2 separate regions of the Homo sapiens genome follow, and region 2 is linked to region 1. The links come from fine-mapping of genetic effects on gene expression. Tissue or cell type: whole blood. Region 1 holds a variant in brackets; the other region holds the start of a gene. All regions are shown on one strand. Distances are from middle to middle.

Region 1 (8,265 bases):
CCTGGCTAACACGGTGAAACCCCGTCTCTACCAAAAATACAAAAAAAATGAGCCAGGTGCAGCGGCAGGCGCCTGTAGTCCCAGCTACTCGGGAGGCTGAGGCAGGAGAATGGCATGAAACCGGGAGGCAGAGCTTGTAGTGAGCCAAGATCGTGCCACCGCACTCCAGCCTGGGCGACAGAGCGAGACTCTGTCTCAAAAAAAAAAAAAATAAATAAAATAAATAAACATTTAATGGAGAAAAATAGAGAAATAGAGTGTATACATTTATTATTATTTTGAGATGCAGTCTTGCTCTGTTGCCCAGGCTGGAGTGCAGTGGCATGATGGTGGCTCACTACAGCCTCCGCCTCCTGGGCTCAAGTGATTCTCCTGCCTCAACCTCTCAAGTAGCTGGGACTACAGGGGTGCACCACCATGGCCAGCTAATTTTTTTGTTAAGACCAGCCCAGGCTGGTCTTAAATTCCTGACCTCAAGGGATTCTCCTGCCTAGACCTCTGAAAACACTGGGATTATAGGTGTGAGCCACTGAGTCTAGCCTTTTCCTGAATTTTTTTTTTTTTTTGAGACAAAGTCTCACTCTGTCACCCAGCCTGGAGTGCAGTGGCACAGTCTTGTCTCACTGCAACCTCCACCCCCTGGGTTCAAGTTATTCTTCTGCCTCAGCCTCCTGAATATCTGGGATTACAGGTGTGCACCACCAGGCCCAGCTAATTTTTTGTATTTTTATTAGAGACTAAGGGTTTCACCAAGTTGGCCAGGCTAGCCTTGAATTCCTGACCTCAAATGATCCGCCCACCTCAGCCTCCCAAAGTGCTCAGATTACAGGCACGAGCCATTACACCCAGCCTTCCTGAATATTTTTGATCCACAGTTGGTTGAATCCACAGATGCAGAACCCATGGATATGGAGGGCCGATTGTACATCCATACTGTAAAACCATCACTACTATCCATCTCCAGACTTTTTTCATCTTGCAAAACTGAAACAGTGTTCCTATTAAACATTAACTCCCCATCCCCACTTCCTCCCAGTCTCTGCAAACCACCATTCCACTTTCTGTCTCTGTGAATTTGACTACTCTAGGTACCTTATATAAGTGGAATCACACAGTGTTTATCTTTTTGTGACTGGCTTATTTCACTTAGTATAATGTCCTTAAGGTTGATCCATGTTGTAATAAGTCAGAAATTCCTTGATCTGTGATTTTTTTACTTTTGCAGGTGTTTCAGGTTTCTTGTAAAGAGCATTGATTACCTAGATGAAATTCTTCCCAAATTTCTGTTTTGTTAAGGAATAAAAGGAGTGCTCCCTCAAAAGCTTAAAAAGCGTATATACCTAAAGTAAAATAGTTCATCCTACCATAAAAACACATGCATGCAAATATTTACTGCAGCACTATTCACAATAGCAAAGACATGGAATCAACCTAAATGCCCATCAATTGTAGACAGGATAATGGAAATGTGGTACACATACACCATGTAATACTACACAGCCATAAAAAAGAATGAGATTATGTCCTTTGCCGCAACATGGATGGATCTGGGGACCATTATCCTAAGCAAACTAATGCAGGAACAGAAAACCAAATACCATATGTTCTCACTTAAAAGTGCGAGCTAAACAACGAGAACACATAGACACAAAGAGGGAAATGACACACACGGACCTACTTGAGGGTGGAGGGTAGGAGGAGGGAGAGGATCAGAAAAAAAAATAACCTGTTGGGTACTGTGCTTATTATCTGGGTGACTAAATAATCTGTACACCAAACCCCTGTGACATGCAGTTTACCTGAATAACAATCCTGCACCTGTACCCCTAAACCTAAAATTAAAGTTAAAAAAAAAAGCTTTAAAAATGTCTAGTACACACCAGTGTTCATTGTAGCATCATACACAATAGCCAAAAGAGGAAAACAACTCAGGTATCCATCAACAGATGAATGGATAAACAAAATGTGGTCTATACATACAATGCAATATTATTCAGCCTTAAACGGAAGGAAATTGTGGCACATGCTACAACATGGATGAACCTTGAAGCCATTATGTTAAGGGCTGATGGTTGCATAACAATATGGATGTACTTAATTGCACTGAATTACACAACGTCTCACTCTATTGCTTGGGCTGGAGTGCAGTGGCGCAAAATTTCGGCTCACTGCAGCCTTGATCACCGGGGTTTAGGTGATCCTCCCACCTCAGCCTCCCAGGTAGCTGAGACTACAGGCATGCGCCCACCACACCCTGCTAATTTTTTGTATTTTTAGTAGAGACAGGGTTTTGCCATGTTGTGCAGGCTGGTCTCAATCTCCTGGGCTCAAGCAATCTGCCTGCCTTGGCCTCCCAAAGTGTTGGGATTACAGGGGTGAGCCACTGTGCTCAGCCTATTTTACCACAGTTTAAAAAAATAATTAAAAATAATCTTAATCCCAGCACTTTGGGAGGCCGAGGCGGGCAGATTACTTGAGGCCAGGAGTTTGAGGCGAGCCTGGCCAACATGGTGAAACCCCGTCTCTACTAAAAAATACAAAAATTAGCCGTACGTCGTGGCCCACGTCTGTAATCCCAGCTACTTGGGAGGCTGAGGCATAAGAATTGCTGGAACCCAGGAGGCGGAGGTTGCAGGGAGCCAATATTGTACCACTGCACTCCAGCCTGGACGACAGACAGACCTAGACTCTGTTTCAAAAAACAAACAAACAAACAAACAAACAAACTTTATATATATGCAACCTATTTTAATTACATTACTTTAGCTCTCTATATAAATGACTTCACAAAACGATTTAATACTATATTTTTGTATTTTTAACAAAGTCAGTAAGATAGTGATTTGAAGACAATTATGGCTGGGTGTAGTGGCTCACGCCTGTGATGCTAGCAATTTGGGAGGCCAAGGCAGGTGGATCACTTGAGGTCAGGAGTTTGAAACCAGCCTAGCCAACATGAAGAAACCCTGTCTCTACTAAAAATATTTTTAAAAATTAGTCAGGCATGGTGGCGGGCTCCTGTAATCCCAGCTACTTGGGAGGCTGAAGCAGAATCACTTGAACCCAGGAGGTGGAAGTTGCAGTGAGCCAAGATCCCATAATTGTACTCCAGCCTGGGCAACAAGAGCAAAACTTTATCCTCCGCCCCCCGACCACCCCCCCTCGCCCAAAAAAAGACAATTTCTGCATCTTATGTTTATGAGAGTCACTTAATTCAATATATGGCTGTTGGTGACAATGTACGTTGTACTGTAAAATGTCTGAGTGATACATTCTCCCTTGACTTTGGTTCTAGGTAAGTTTGCTTTCATGGTGAATTGCTGCCTGCTTTCTTTATAAGAAGAACTCTATTTACCTTTCTGCTTTGACTGTCAGGAACTGAGACACCTTTTATGCTGAATTGAAGTGATTAGCTGGTCAAACCAGTATTTCCCTGGAGAATCATTAACCATCATTAAATAAATAATATCCTGTTCCTATTCACTTTGAACACCATGAGTGAAGTGGCTTGGTTGGAGTACAGTGTCTGAAATTGAGACTGCTGGCTTTTGTGACTTTGGACCTTGTCCAAATACTTTAACAGCATGATTCTTCCTCTTGTTGTGCCCCATTTCTAGAAAATGATTTCCTGTATCTTTGAGGTTTCTCTAATGTTACGGGAAGTCAGGGACCCTAAACGGAGGGACCGGCTGGAGCCGTGGCAGAGGAACATAAACTGTAAAGATTTCATGGACATTTATCAGTTCCCAAATAATACTTTTATAATTTCTTATGCCTGTTTTTACTTTAATCTCTTAATCCTGTTATCTTCATAAGCTAAGGATATACGTCACCTCAGGACCACTGTGATAATTGTGTTAACTGCACAAATTGATTGTAAAACATGTGTGTTTGAAAAATATGAAATCAGTGCACCTTGAAACAGAACAGAATAACAGCGATGATTAGGCAACAAGGGAAGACAACCATAAGGTCTGACTGCCTGTGGGGTCGGGCAAAAAGAGCCATATTTTTCTTCTTGCAGAGAGCCTGTAAATGGATGTGCAAGTAGGAGCGATATCACTAAATTCTTTTCCTAGCAAGAAATATTAATATTAATATCCTGGGAAAGGAATGCATTCCTGGGGGGCGGTCTATAAACGGAGGCTCTGGGAGTGTCTGTCTCATGTGGTTGAGATAAGGACTGAGATACGCTCTGGTCTCCTGCAGTACCCTCAGGCTTACTAGGGTGGGGAAAAACTGCCCTGGTAAATTAGTGGTCAGACCAGTTCTCTGCTCTCAAACCCTGTTTTCTGTTATTTAAGATGTTTATCAAGACAATACGTGCACCGATGAACATAGACCCTTATCAGTAGTTCTGCTTTTGCCCTTTGCATTGTGATCTTTGTTGGACCCTTATTAGTAGTTCTGCTTTTTGCCCTTTGAAGCATGTGATCTTTGTACCTACTCCCTGTCCTTACACTCCCTCCCCTTTTGAAACCCTTAATAAAAAACTTGCCGGTTTGAAGCTCAGGTGGGCATCATGGTCCTCCC[G/A]ATATGTGATGTCACCCCCGGTGGCCCAGCTGTAAAATTCCTCTCTTTGTGCTCTTTCTCTTTATTTCTCAGCCAGCTGACACTTATGGAAAATAGAAAGAACCTATGTTGAAATATCGGGGGCGGGTTCCCCATACTCTAAGGTTTTTGCAAATGCATTTTACATATGCCACATTCCTTGGGTTTTAAATTAGATCATCTCAATCATGTCTCCCAAATTTGGTTTTAAAATATCCTTCCACATGTTTTCTAGTGGTGTAGTATTAGATAAAACCAAAACCAAAATTTTATTTTATTGATATGGGTAATGCTCTCCATTCATACATTACAGCCCTGGTCCCTCAGTCACTAGGTTCCACATTTTGGCACTATTAAAAAAAAAAACAAAACTTTTATTTTCTTCCCTTGAATATCCAATCAGGTGCCATGTTCTATAGTTTTTATTTTTAAAATTATTGTTATATCTGATTATTCCTTTCTAATCTCAATGTTGTATTCTCCCATCTTTCTTCTTCAGGTCTTTGTAATTACCCCACTACCTGGATTATTGCAATCTCCTTCCAACAGGATTCTCTCTCACACCTATCCTCTGGACAGCCAGTTCTCTATGCCGTTGCCAGATCCATCTTGCCAAAGCAGAACTCTGTTGTCTTCACTCTTGGCATTTACAAAGGCCTTCCTCAATGTGCCTCAAGCCAAGGGTCTGGTCTAATTACCATTATTCCTCTTGGCATAGCCTAGCCAAACTGAAACACTCACTGTCCCTGCAACATGCCCTGCATTTTCTCATCTTAATGCTTTGGTTCGTGTTGTTAGGTCTTAGTGCAAAGTGCTTTTACCCACCCCAACCTCAATCTCTGCCAGTCAAGAAATATTACCCATCCTTTATATGTGGCCTCCATAATTAAACTTTTCTTGATTCTTTCCAAAGATGTACTGTCTCCTAGTTTGTTGTTGCTTTTGTTGTTGTTGGTGGTGGTGTTTGAGACAGTATCTTGCTCTGTCACTCAGTCTGGAGTGCAGTGGTCCAATCTCAGCTCACTGCAACCTCCACCTAATGGGTTCAAGTGATTCTCCTGCCTCAGCCTCCCGAGTAGCTGGGACTACAAGCACGTGCCACCATGCCTGGCTAATTTTTTTGTATTTTTATTAGAGACGGGCTTTCACCGTGTTAGCCAGGATGGTCTGGATCTCCTGACCTGGTGATCTGCACGCCTCAGCCTCCCAAAGTGCTGGGATTACAGACGTGAGCCACCGTGCCCAGCTTCTCTCTCCTAGTTTTAACCTTCCCCCTGCCTTTTATATCTGGTCATCTCTTGTGGCAAAAAGCATATTCTTCATATATTAAACTTACTTATGTATGTCTCTCTCCTACATAAGCTCTTAAGATAATGAACTATAGCTCTTTGCCTACTTACCTTTATGTTTCTTTATGTTTTCTGATTAGATCAATGTATTCTATTCCAAAGGTACTCCAAAATTTAATTGAAAATTTTAAATTGAAAATTCAATTTAATTGAAATTGGCATAAATCCAATACTGACAACATGCCCCAAGGAAAAAACTCAAAGGGAGTTTTTTTTAAAGAGCACTACTTGTGTAAAAATATTCACTCAGCCAGGCGCAGTGGCTTATGCCTGTAATCCCAGCACTTTGGGAGGCCAAGGCGGGTGGATCACGAGGTCAGGAGATTGAGACCATCCTGGCTAACATGGTGAAAACCCGTCTCTACTAAAAATACAAAAAATTAGCCGGGCATGGTGGCGGGTGCCTGTAGTCCCAGCTACTCAGGAGGCTGAGGCAGGAGAATGGCATGAACCCGGGAGGTGGAGCTTGCAGTGAGCAGAGATGGCGCCACTGCACTCTGGCCTGGGTGGCAGAGCGAGACTCTGTCTCAAAAAAAAAAAAAAAAAAAAAAAAAACAACATATATATATATATATATATATACACACACACACACGTGTATACATTTACTCAGAACAGGCAGAAGCGGATAAGATGGCAGCAGCAAGCAGCTGATCAGGGTGGGAGAACCAGTGGTAGTGGAGGCAGTAGTGGGGCTGGCGGTGGTTCCAGGTGCGGCACAGGCAGTGGCCATAGCAGCTTGTTGGATAAGTGGAAGACAGATGATAAGCCTGTAAAAATTGACAAGTGGGATGGATTAGCTGTGAAAAACTCTTTGGATGATTCTGCCAAAAAGTTACTTCTGGAAAAATACAAATATGTGGAGAATTTTGGTCTCATTGATGGTCGCCTTACCATCTGTACAATCTCCTGTTTCTTTGCCATAGTGGCTTTGATTTGGGATTATATGCACCCCTTTCCATAGTCCAAACCCATTTTGGCTTTGTGCGTCATATCCTATTTTATGATGATGGGGATTTTGACCATTTATACCTCATATAAGGAGAGGAGCATCTTTCTTGTGGCCCACAGGAAAGATCCTATAGGAATGGATCCTGATGATATTTGGCAACTGTCCTCCAGTCTTAAAAGGTTTGATGACAAATACACCTCTAAGCTGACCTTCATCAGTGGGAGAACAAAGCAGCAGCGGGAAGCCGAATTCACCAAGTCCATTGCTAAGTTTTTTGACCACAGTGGGACACTGGTCATGGATGCACATGAGCCTGAAATATCCAAGCTCCATGACAGTCTCGCCGTAGAAAGAAAAATAAGGCCGGGTGCGGTAGTTCACGCCTATAATCCCAGCACTTTGGGAGGCCGAGGCGGGCAGATCACAAGGTCAGGAGATCAAGACCATCCTGGCTAACACGGTGAAACCCCGTCTCTACTAAAAAATACAAAAAATTATCCAGGTATGGTGGCACGTGCCTATAGTCCCAGCTACTGGGGAGGCTGAGGCAGGAGAATGGCCTGAACCTGGGAGGTGGAGCTTGCAGTGAGTCGAGATCGTGCCACTGCGCTCCAGCCTGGGCGACAGAGCGAGACTCCGTCTCAAAAAAAAAAAAAAAAAAAAAGAAAAATAAAATAGCCAATTCTAAAAGTAGCCCTCTTTCTGTTGGATCTTGCTGAATTACTGGTTTGTGGGGTGGGGGAGATAAAAAGAATTTAAAATGGATAAAGTAAAAAAAGTTTAAAAATCCCTGTTTTGTCCTGAAATTTTAGTCTGTTCTGGATAAATAGGATTTTCTGAGAGAGATATGAGAAGTTGTAGCTCTGATGTCTAGCTGTAGTCTCCTGGGTCTGCTGATTGCATTATTTTAATTTGCTTTTCTGGGAAAGCAGTTTTGCTAAAAGCTGTACAGACTTTCCTTTGTACCTAGTAGTACTTTATATAGTATAGCTTTGGGCTATGTAGCATTTTAAGACTCAATTAATAAAAAATTAATCTGTTGCTGACTCTGTTAATTCCTATTTCCACATGTATTTCCTTGAAGAATTCAGGATACGACTTCTTGTGTATGACAGTTTTCCTTCACACACTATTTTTGTGGGTGTGTATATATCTGATTTGGGGAGAATTTAAAAAACACATAGCTTTTTAATTTGTTTGAAACAGACCTTTTGCCTGTTACATTTTGTGCTCTTAACCAATTAAAGAAGCCAATGACATGTTAGTTTTATATTGTGTTTTCCACTAGTATATCCCTGTTGATTTGTTTGTGCCTTTTATTAACTGCCATTTTCTAAAATTTTTTTCAATAAAGGGAAGACGTGAAAAAAATTACTCAGAACAGCAATATATAATAAACAATTAAAAAATCAA
Region 2 (8,000 bases), 57 kb after region 1:
TTTTTTTTTCCCCAAGACAGTGTTCTGCTGTCGCCCAGGCTGAAGCACAGTGGTGCAATCTTGGCTCACTGCAGCCTCCACCTCTTGGGTTCCAGCGATTTTCCTGCCTCAGCCTCCTGGGTAGCTGGGATTACAGGCATGTGCCACCATGCCTGGCTAATTTTTGCACTTTTAGTAGAGACAGGGTTTCACCATGTTGGCCAGGCTGGTCTCGAACTCCTGACCTCAGATGATTCACCTGCCTTGGCCTCCGAAAGTGCTAGGATTATAGGCGTGAGCCACCATGCCTAGCCTAAAATACATTTTTGTCATGAAGTGTTTATAAGAGGTGAAAGAAGTTTTTGTTGTTTTTGTTTCACTGTGCTTTTTCATTGACAAAAAAATGAAACAAGGGATTATGGTAGAAAAAGTTTTAGATTTCTGAGTAAACCAAAACTGATTATGATGATGAAGAAGGAAAATATTTTAGAGGGAGGAAACTAAAAAATAGACACATTAAAAAAATGGGTCAGTTATTCAGTGGAAACTGCATTATTCAAAAACCAGACCTGGGCTTTCCTAGCAATGTACTTGTTTAGGAAACAAACTGATGTATTAGGTTTACATTTGATTCCTTTAAAATAAACACACAAAGAACCTTGATCCATAGAAAAACTACATAAACAGATTTGAAAAGTATTTATCTAACAGTTTCTTTATTTTACTCACCTAATGGAGTTAGTGGACCAAAATTTGAAGTTTTGGAAGAGATCCAAAAACATTCAAAATAAGTTCATGGCCTTCTAACAGGGCAGTAGAACATGATCCAACAGGATTAGAGACAGCCAAGTAGGAAAGACTTCTGCCTAGCAAACACTGACCCAAGTCCAGAATATTCTCTGCATAGCAGCATTATATACATGAGTAGGTCCTGGGTTCATTTCAGTTTTCTTTTCTTTTCTTTTCTTTTTTTTTTTTTTTTTGAGATGGAGTCTCGATCTTGTCGTCCAGGCTGGAGTGCAATGGCATCGTCTCGGCTCACTGCAACCTCTGCCTCCCTAATTCAAGTGATTCTCCTGCCTCAGCCTCCCATGTAGCTGGGGTTACAGGTGCCTGCCACCATGCCCGGCTAATTTTTGTATTTTTAGTAGAGACAGGGTTTCACTGTGTTGGCCAGGATGGTCTCGAACTCCTGACCTCAGGTGATCCGCCCGTCTCGGCCTCCCAAAGTGCTGGGATTACAGGCGTGAGCCACTGCACCCAGCCTCATTGCAGTTTTCTATTATGTTGATGGAGGCTGTCTCTAAGGAGCTCTCTCATACCAAATGAATCCTGAGCCTTACCAAAAGGCAGGGTTTTTTCCTTTGTAAATGTTTACATTCATATTCTAATAAATAGTACACTAATAATGGATTTTATGTATCATCCAGACCCATGAATCCCAAATCTATATCTCTGATCTAGACCTCTTCTCTGCACTTCAAGTGCCTCTATATCCAATGGCCACAGATGTCTAACAGGCATCTCAACTTCATGTGATGTCTCTCTGATAGGAACATTATTTCCACCCCAAACCTGTTCCTCTCTGTTTTTCCAGTTTTAATAAATGACTCCACCATTCACCTGATTTCTCCAAGATGTATCCTCAATTATTCCCTTTCCTTCATACCCTGTATCTATTTCACCAGCAAGCTCTACCTTATTTGATCTGCTTCCAATGCATATCTTGAATCCATCCACTTCTCTCCATTTCTGTTTTCCTAATCTAAGTTGTAATTATTTCTTGCCTGGGTCTTCTCCCTGATATTCTTGCCTCCTTACTCTCAGCTTAATACAGAGCATCCAGTGTGCTCTTTTAAAAACTTTACAATCAGCTCACTTACTTTTCAGCTTGAAATGCTTTGAAGCAGAGCAGTGATCTGGGTCCTGCCGACTGCCCCAATTTCCACCTGGCTCATGCTCTGCATGCACTTCCTTAAAGAGGCCAAGACCTCTCCCACCTCTGGGCTTTTCATTTGTTCCTTCTGCCTAGAATGCACTTCCCTCCGCTGATTCATTCTTGTCCTTCTGGCCTCTGAGAGCCTTTCTCCCAGTTACCTTCTCATGACCCAGTTCTTTCCTTCATTGAACTAATCACGATCTGTAATTATATTTTTTGGTTTTTTTTTTTGTCTGTCTTCTCCCTGTTAGAATGTAAGCTCTATGACGGACCTTTTCTAACTTGTTTGCCATTGTGTCCCCAACTTGGAGCCTAGCTCATGCCTGCTACATAATGGGTGCTCAATAAATATTTGTTAAATGAATGAATCATACAGCAGCTCAACTTGGATTATAATTTAGATACTCTAATTTATATTCCAGTACTTATCATGCTACCTCAAACAAAAATGGAGGTAAGAAAAAAAATACTGATAGCCAAGTCCTCCCCTCACTCCACCAAAAAAGAGGGGTTGTTGTATGTGTGTGTATACATTTACTCAGTTCAATTCCAGCTTAACACCATTGGGTATTAACTGTGTATATGATACTGTACTACAAGTTGGGACTTCAGCATAAATTAAATGATACCTGCCTCTAAGATGAATAAAAGGACATGGGCAAATACACAACTAGCCACAAGTCAGCTGTTGTGTTATAAGCAACTGTGCTTGAAGTAAATTAGCTAACGCCAAGACAGATAGCAGCATAGTCTTAGGATCCACTAATAATGCATTATTAAGACCAAACTCTTCCAAGGACTTGGGAGTAAGCTATGGTTCTGTTCTTTTCCAGCTGGCGTTTTTTAACATCCCCTTGATGGCTTACATGTGTTGGAGCTTGCTGCAGCGGTGCTTTGGTCACAACTTCAGGTCTCATCTCCATCAAAGAAAATACTTGAAAATTATGCCTGTTCACCTACTTATGCTACTGCTGTACATCTGGCAGGTTTATTCCTGCTACTTTCTTTATGCAACATACGGCACCCTAGCTTTTTTATTCTCCCCTTTGCGGACCTGGTTGACACTGCTGACACCTGTTCTCATTCGTTATGTGTGGACACTGAACTCCACCAAGTTTGGAATCTTCATGGTGCAGTTAAAAAGCCACCTGAGCTCCTGAAGGCCATGTCTCACCACTGGCAGCTGGGCAGAAGCCCAGCCTCTGTGTCTGTAGCCCAGGCCTCTACCCCAGTAGCAGGTGGAGGGCCAGGATTGGTGGGTGAGCTTTAGGGAGCAGCTGCTCGTTTGGAGTCCTGGACGTTGGAGGGATTACCCACTACTGATACCTGCAGAATGGACTGCAGAAAAGTCTCAAAAATAATGCCTTTATTCCTTCCCTCCCTAAGGAGGCAAAGAGTTGATTTACCTTTGTGAAGAGAAAACCCTTATCTAGGACATCCACAGGGTAGAGGTTGGGTGTGTGTACGGGAGTGTCTGAGGCCCAGTGTGTTTTTTAGGGTTACCCCATGTAAAGCACTTACCGCTGTGCTTGGAATTCAGCAGCTGTCAAAGGTGCAATTTCAGGGGCAGGGAACCTTTGAGGATCTGGGCCCGACCCTCACTACCCCTGAGATATTAGTTCCCAGGCCTGTTTTCCCACAGGATTGTGGGCTCTCTGCTTCCTTAGTCGGAAGTGTTTTCAACTAATCAAATAAATGAATGAATGATGAATAAGAAAGACGGTGAGCCTGAGGCTTGCTTGTGTAGCCTGGCCTAAGGGGCAAGAGAAGGCGTGGCCTGTCCTGGCCTCTGAGAGTGGGATGGTTGGTGCTGTACCTCAGGGGACAGGGCGGGGCGGGAGGAGGCGGGGCCAGGCCTGGTCTCTGATAACGGGATGGGTGGTGCTGGACCTCGGGCGGGGCCGGGCCTCGTGGCGGGAGGAGGCAGGGCAGGGCCTCTGGGACGGGGCTGGACGGCTTGTTGACGGAAACGAGCCCTTGACGCTGTGGCCCGGAAGTGGAGCGGCTGTCGCAGTGCGGCTCCGGCAGTGGCAGCGGAGGCCTGTGTTTGCGGCCTTCGGCAAGCGACTGAGATGGCGAGCGCAACTGCACCTGCAGCCGCAGTCCCCACCCTGGCTTCGCCTTTGGAGCAGCTCCGGCACTTGGCGGAGGAGCTGCGGTTGCTCCTGCCTCGAGTGCGGGGTGAGCTGACGGAGTTAGAACGGGCGACGGCAGGGGCGGGCTCGGGGTCGGGGAGAGGCCGGGCTCGGGGTCGGGGAGAGGCCGGGCTCGGGGTCGCGGAGAGGGCGGGCTGGGGCGGCGGCGGGGAGCCGGGCTTGGGCGAGGGAGGTGGCTCCGCTTACCTCAGCTTTTCCATTCGCCACCGTTCGGCCCCCACACGCCACACCCACAAGTCGGCGAAGCCCAGGAGACCACCGAGGAGTTTAATCGAGAGATGTTCTGGAGAAGACTCAGTGAGTGCGCCTCCTTCCGGGCTCCCCTTGCCTCAGTTCCTCCAGCGTCCCGACCCCTTTTCCTCCCGCTGTCCCCCACGGAGGGGACTGCTCTCCCCCGCTGCATCCTTTCTGTGAGGTACCTTACCCACCTCAGCACCTGAGAGGGTGAAATAGAATTCTAACCTCGACATTCGGGAAGTGTTTTTGAGAAGTCTCGGTCGGTAAGGGAAGTCTTCCAAGTCCGTGCAGCACTAACGTATTGGCACCTGCCTCCTCTTCGGCCACCCCCCAGATGAGGCAGCTGTGACTGTGTCAAGGGAAGCCACGACTCTGACCATAGTCTTCTCTCAGCTTCCACTGCCGTCTCCACAGGTGGGCTTCACTTTCGTGGAATCCTTGGGCTGCCGAGTTACACCTTAGGAATCCTCTAATTTTCTTTCCACCTTTTGCACGCACGCCAGGAGATTTCTTTTCTTCATCTGTCCAGTGAGGTTACCGTTTTTACTTCACAGGATTGTTGTGAAGACCGAATTGCCAAGTGCAGTTCCTGGCGCGGAGTAGGCAGGTCTTATAAATATTGGTTCAGTCTGAAGTTTATCCTGGTTGTTTCCCTTCTGATAATTTTTTAAGCACTTTTTATTTGCTGGGTGTTTTCACATACTTGATGGCCATCTGACAGATGAGCAAGGAGGCTCAGAAGCTCAGCTTAAGATTTAAAAAAAAGCAGGGGGGCTAGAATTTAAATCAAGGTCTATCTGATGTCTAAGCTACCTATTCTGTTATACTGCATAATACCCTTTTTATATTATTTTTTATATTTAATCAGTAACATATGTAGATAGTACAAAATTCAACAGATATCAAAGTGTGTTAAGTTTACCTTTCCACCCACTTTCTCATTTTTGTCTCCCCCAGTTCCTTTTGCATTATTCCACGTATATTCTGTGCATATATACATTCATATACATTTATCTGTATGTGTCAGCTTCTTTTTACACAAATGATACATAAACACTGTTCTGGACCTTCCAACTTAGAATTACTGCAAACAGTGTCGTGATGAATTACCTAATTCTGTGTATGTGTGTATATTGGTAGAAAAAATTCCCGGAAGTAGAATTGCTAGAACAAAGATTTATGCATTTTAAATATTCCTTTATTATAAAACTAATGAAAGTAAACATGTTGGCTATGACCACGTATGCTCTATGCTCAGTTTTTCTAGAGTTGTGTATGCTTAATATAGGAGTAAGATTCTTTTAAAATGGCATATTCATTGCCTTATTTGATTTTCATAGTCAATTGTTTTAATTTTTCAGTCTACATATATAGGTGTTTGGAAAGGATATAAATATCTTCTGCTGCATGTACCTACAGTGATAAACTCTCTCCTCCTACATACCTTTGAGATTTTTTTTTTTTTTTTGAGACAGAGTCTCTCTCTGTCACTCAGGCTGGAGTGCAGTGGCACAGTCTGGGCTCACTGCATCCTCTGCCTACCGGGTTCAAGCAGTTCTCCTGCCTCAGCCTCTCGAGTAGCTGGGATTACAGGCACCTGTCACCACGCCTGGCTAATTTTTGTATTTTTAGTTGAGACGGGGTTTCACCATGTTGGGCAGGCTAGTCTCGAACTCCTGACCTCAAGTGATCCGCCTGCCTTGGCCTCCCACAGTGTTGGGATTACAGGTGTGAGCCACCGTGCCTGGCCTACCTTTGAGATTTGTGATGAGGAAACAAGAGATGAATTGTATGAGAGCACTTCAAAAGATTCATGGAAAATACTTATTTCAAAAAGAGTAGTTAATATTACCTTATTTTTCTTATCTGCTAACCCCTTTCTTTCAAATGCACTTAGGACTTGCTGCTAAAACTCACTGCAAGTAAGATACCACAAGGAGGCAGCATAGAACTGATTTTCTATACATGCTCAGGACAGTAGTTTCACTCATAGATGAAAAGTTAGAATTTGGATTTATTTGAAATATATACAAATATTCAAGTATATACATATATTCAAATAAATACATATATGTATATATGTGTGTATATACACACATACATACACATGAATCATCATTGCCTTCTTGAGATCTCACCACTTTAGTCCTACTAAAAGATGGGTGGTTGTTGGTTTTTTTTTGTTGTTGTTGTTGTTTTTTAAATTCCAATCTGTATGGAATGATACTTTAATAAAATTATGTGCTCGGATGTTGAATAAATGTCAAATTGCCATAAAAGTTTCTAAACACTCTCAGTCACTGCTTATCTCATCCCTGACTGGTCACAAACAGTTTGTAGACTGGCTCCAACCTGGACCACATTTGTATAGTATTGACTTAGAATTTAACAGAAAATTGAGGACAAGGAAGATGAGAAAGCCAGTGACCACCTAGAAGGAAAATAGTTAACATGGAGCATTGTCGAGTCCATGCTAGTTACCTTTAGTTACATATTCTGATTCTGTTAAAAAAAGAGAGAGACCTGGTTAATGGTTTAATAACCATGGTCTGTCAGTTGGTCTGTCTGTCTCTCTCCCTCCCTCTCTTTTCTGTAAAGGGCCAGTTAGTAAATATTTTAGATTTTGTAACCAACTACCCAACTCTGCCCTTATAGAGCAAACACAACTACAGACATTAAAACCAGTGAGTATGGCTGTGTCCCAATACACTTCATTTCCAAAAACAGGCAGTGGGGCCTGACTTGGCCTGAGGACCACAGTTTGCCAGCTCCTGGTCTAAGATATCATGAATATCTTGGGATACAGAGTATCAGGAATAAGTTTTTTCCTGCTGTTTCTTAATGGTTTATTGAGTTGTCAGCCCAATATCTACTATATAGCTAACTCCTCCCTGGTATGTGATGAGTATAGTAGGCCTGCCTTCATACCAGGACTTCAGAAAATGTTTGATGATGCTGTAGAAATATCTGCCCTAGGCCGGGTGCAGTGGCTTACACCTGTAATCTCAGCACTTTGGGAGGCCAAGGGAGGTGGATCACCTGAGGTCAGGAGTTCGAGACCAGTGTGGCCAGTGTGGCAAAACCCCATCTCTACTAAAAATACAAAAAATTAGCTGGGTGTGGTGGCGGGTGCCTGTAATCCCAGCTACTTGGGAGGCTGAGGCAGGAGAACTGCTTGAACCTGGGAGGTGGAGGTTGCAGTGAGCCAAGATTGCGCCATTGCACTCCAGCCTGGGTGACAGAGTGAGACTCTGTCTCAAAAAAAAAAAAAAAAAAAAAAAAAAAGAAAAAGAAAGAAAAGAAAAAGAAAAGAAATATCTGCTCTATTCCACAGCAGAAGGGTTGACCACTTTGATCTAATCTGTTTCCTTTTTCATAGGAAACCCAGAAGTTCTGTGAACAAGTCCATGCTGCCATCAAGGCATTTATTGCAGTGTACTATTTGCTTCCAAAGGATCAGGGTAAGCCACATAAGTGTTGCATTTATCGTGTAGATCTTTGCTAATATTGTGGATTATGTCTTGTGACTTTTACCTTTACCCAACTTGAACATGTAACTTTCTCCCATAAAATACAGTGAAGGATAATTTTGTAATGTAAGTGACTTATATAAACAAGCCATTATTCTAAGATACAGATGCTTTGTTCCTATGACTTCCCATCTCCCCTGCCTTGCCTGACTCATAAGG

Evidence for each region. PIP is the estimated chance that this variant, and not a neighbour inherited with it, causes the effect.
Region 2: it holds the start of CCNDBP1, and the variant in region 1 is fine-mapped to the expression of CCNDBP1 in whole blood (TOPMed, PIP above 0.99).

The regions. Positions count from the first base shown.
Region 1 is chr15:43,124,473-43,132,737 of GRCh38, forward strand. It overlaps the pseudogene SPCS2P1. Among named protein-coding and RNA genes, the nearest start is that of TMEM62, 5.0 kb to the right of the region's middle. The variant G/A (reference allele first, on the strand shown) is at 4,534.
Region 2 is chr15:43,181,509-43,189,508 of GRCh38, forward strand. It overlaps CCNDBP1 (cyclin D1 binding protein 1), which reads left to right and starts at 3,895. Exons shown (of 11, transcript NM_012142.5): 1 at 3,895-4,099; 2 at 4,312-4,371; 3 at 4,646-4,725; 4 at 7,691-7,772. The coding sequence starts at 3,991. TMEM62 (transmembrane protein 62) reads left to right here. Exons shown (of 14, transcript NM_024956.4): 14 at 2,752-3,636. The coding sequence ends at 3,078. It overlaps LOC124903478 (a long non-coding RNA gene), which reads right to left and starts at 4,379. Exons shown (of 2, transcript XR_007064604.1): 1 at 4,261-4,379. RefSeq lists silencers at 3,621-3,920, 4,141-4,230 and an enhancer at 4,401-4,500.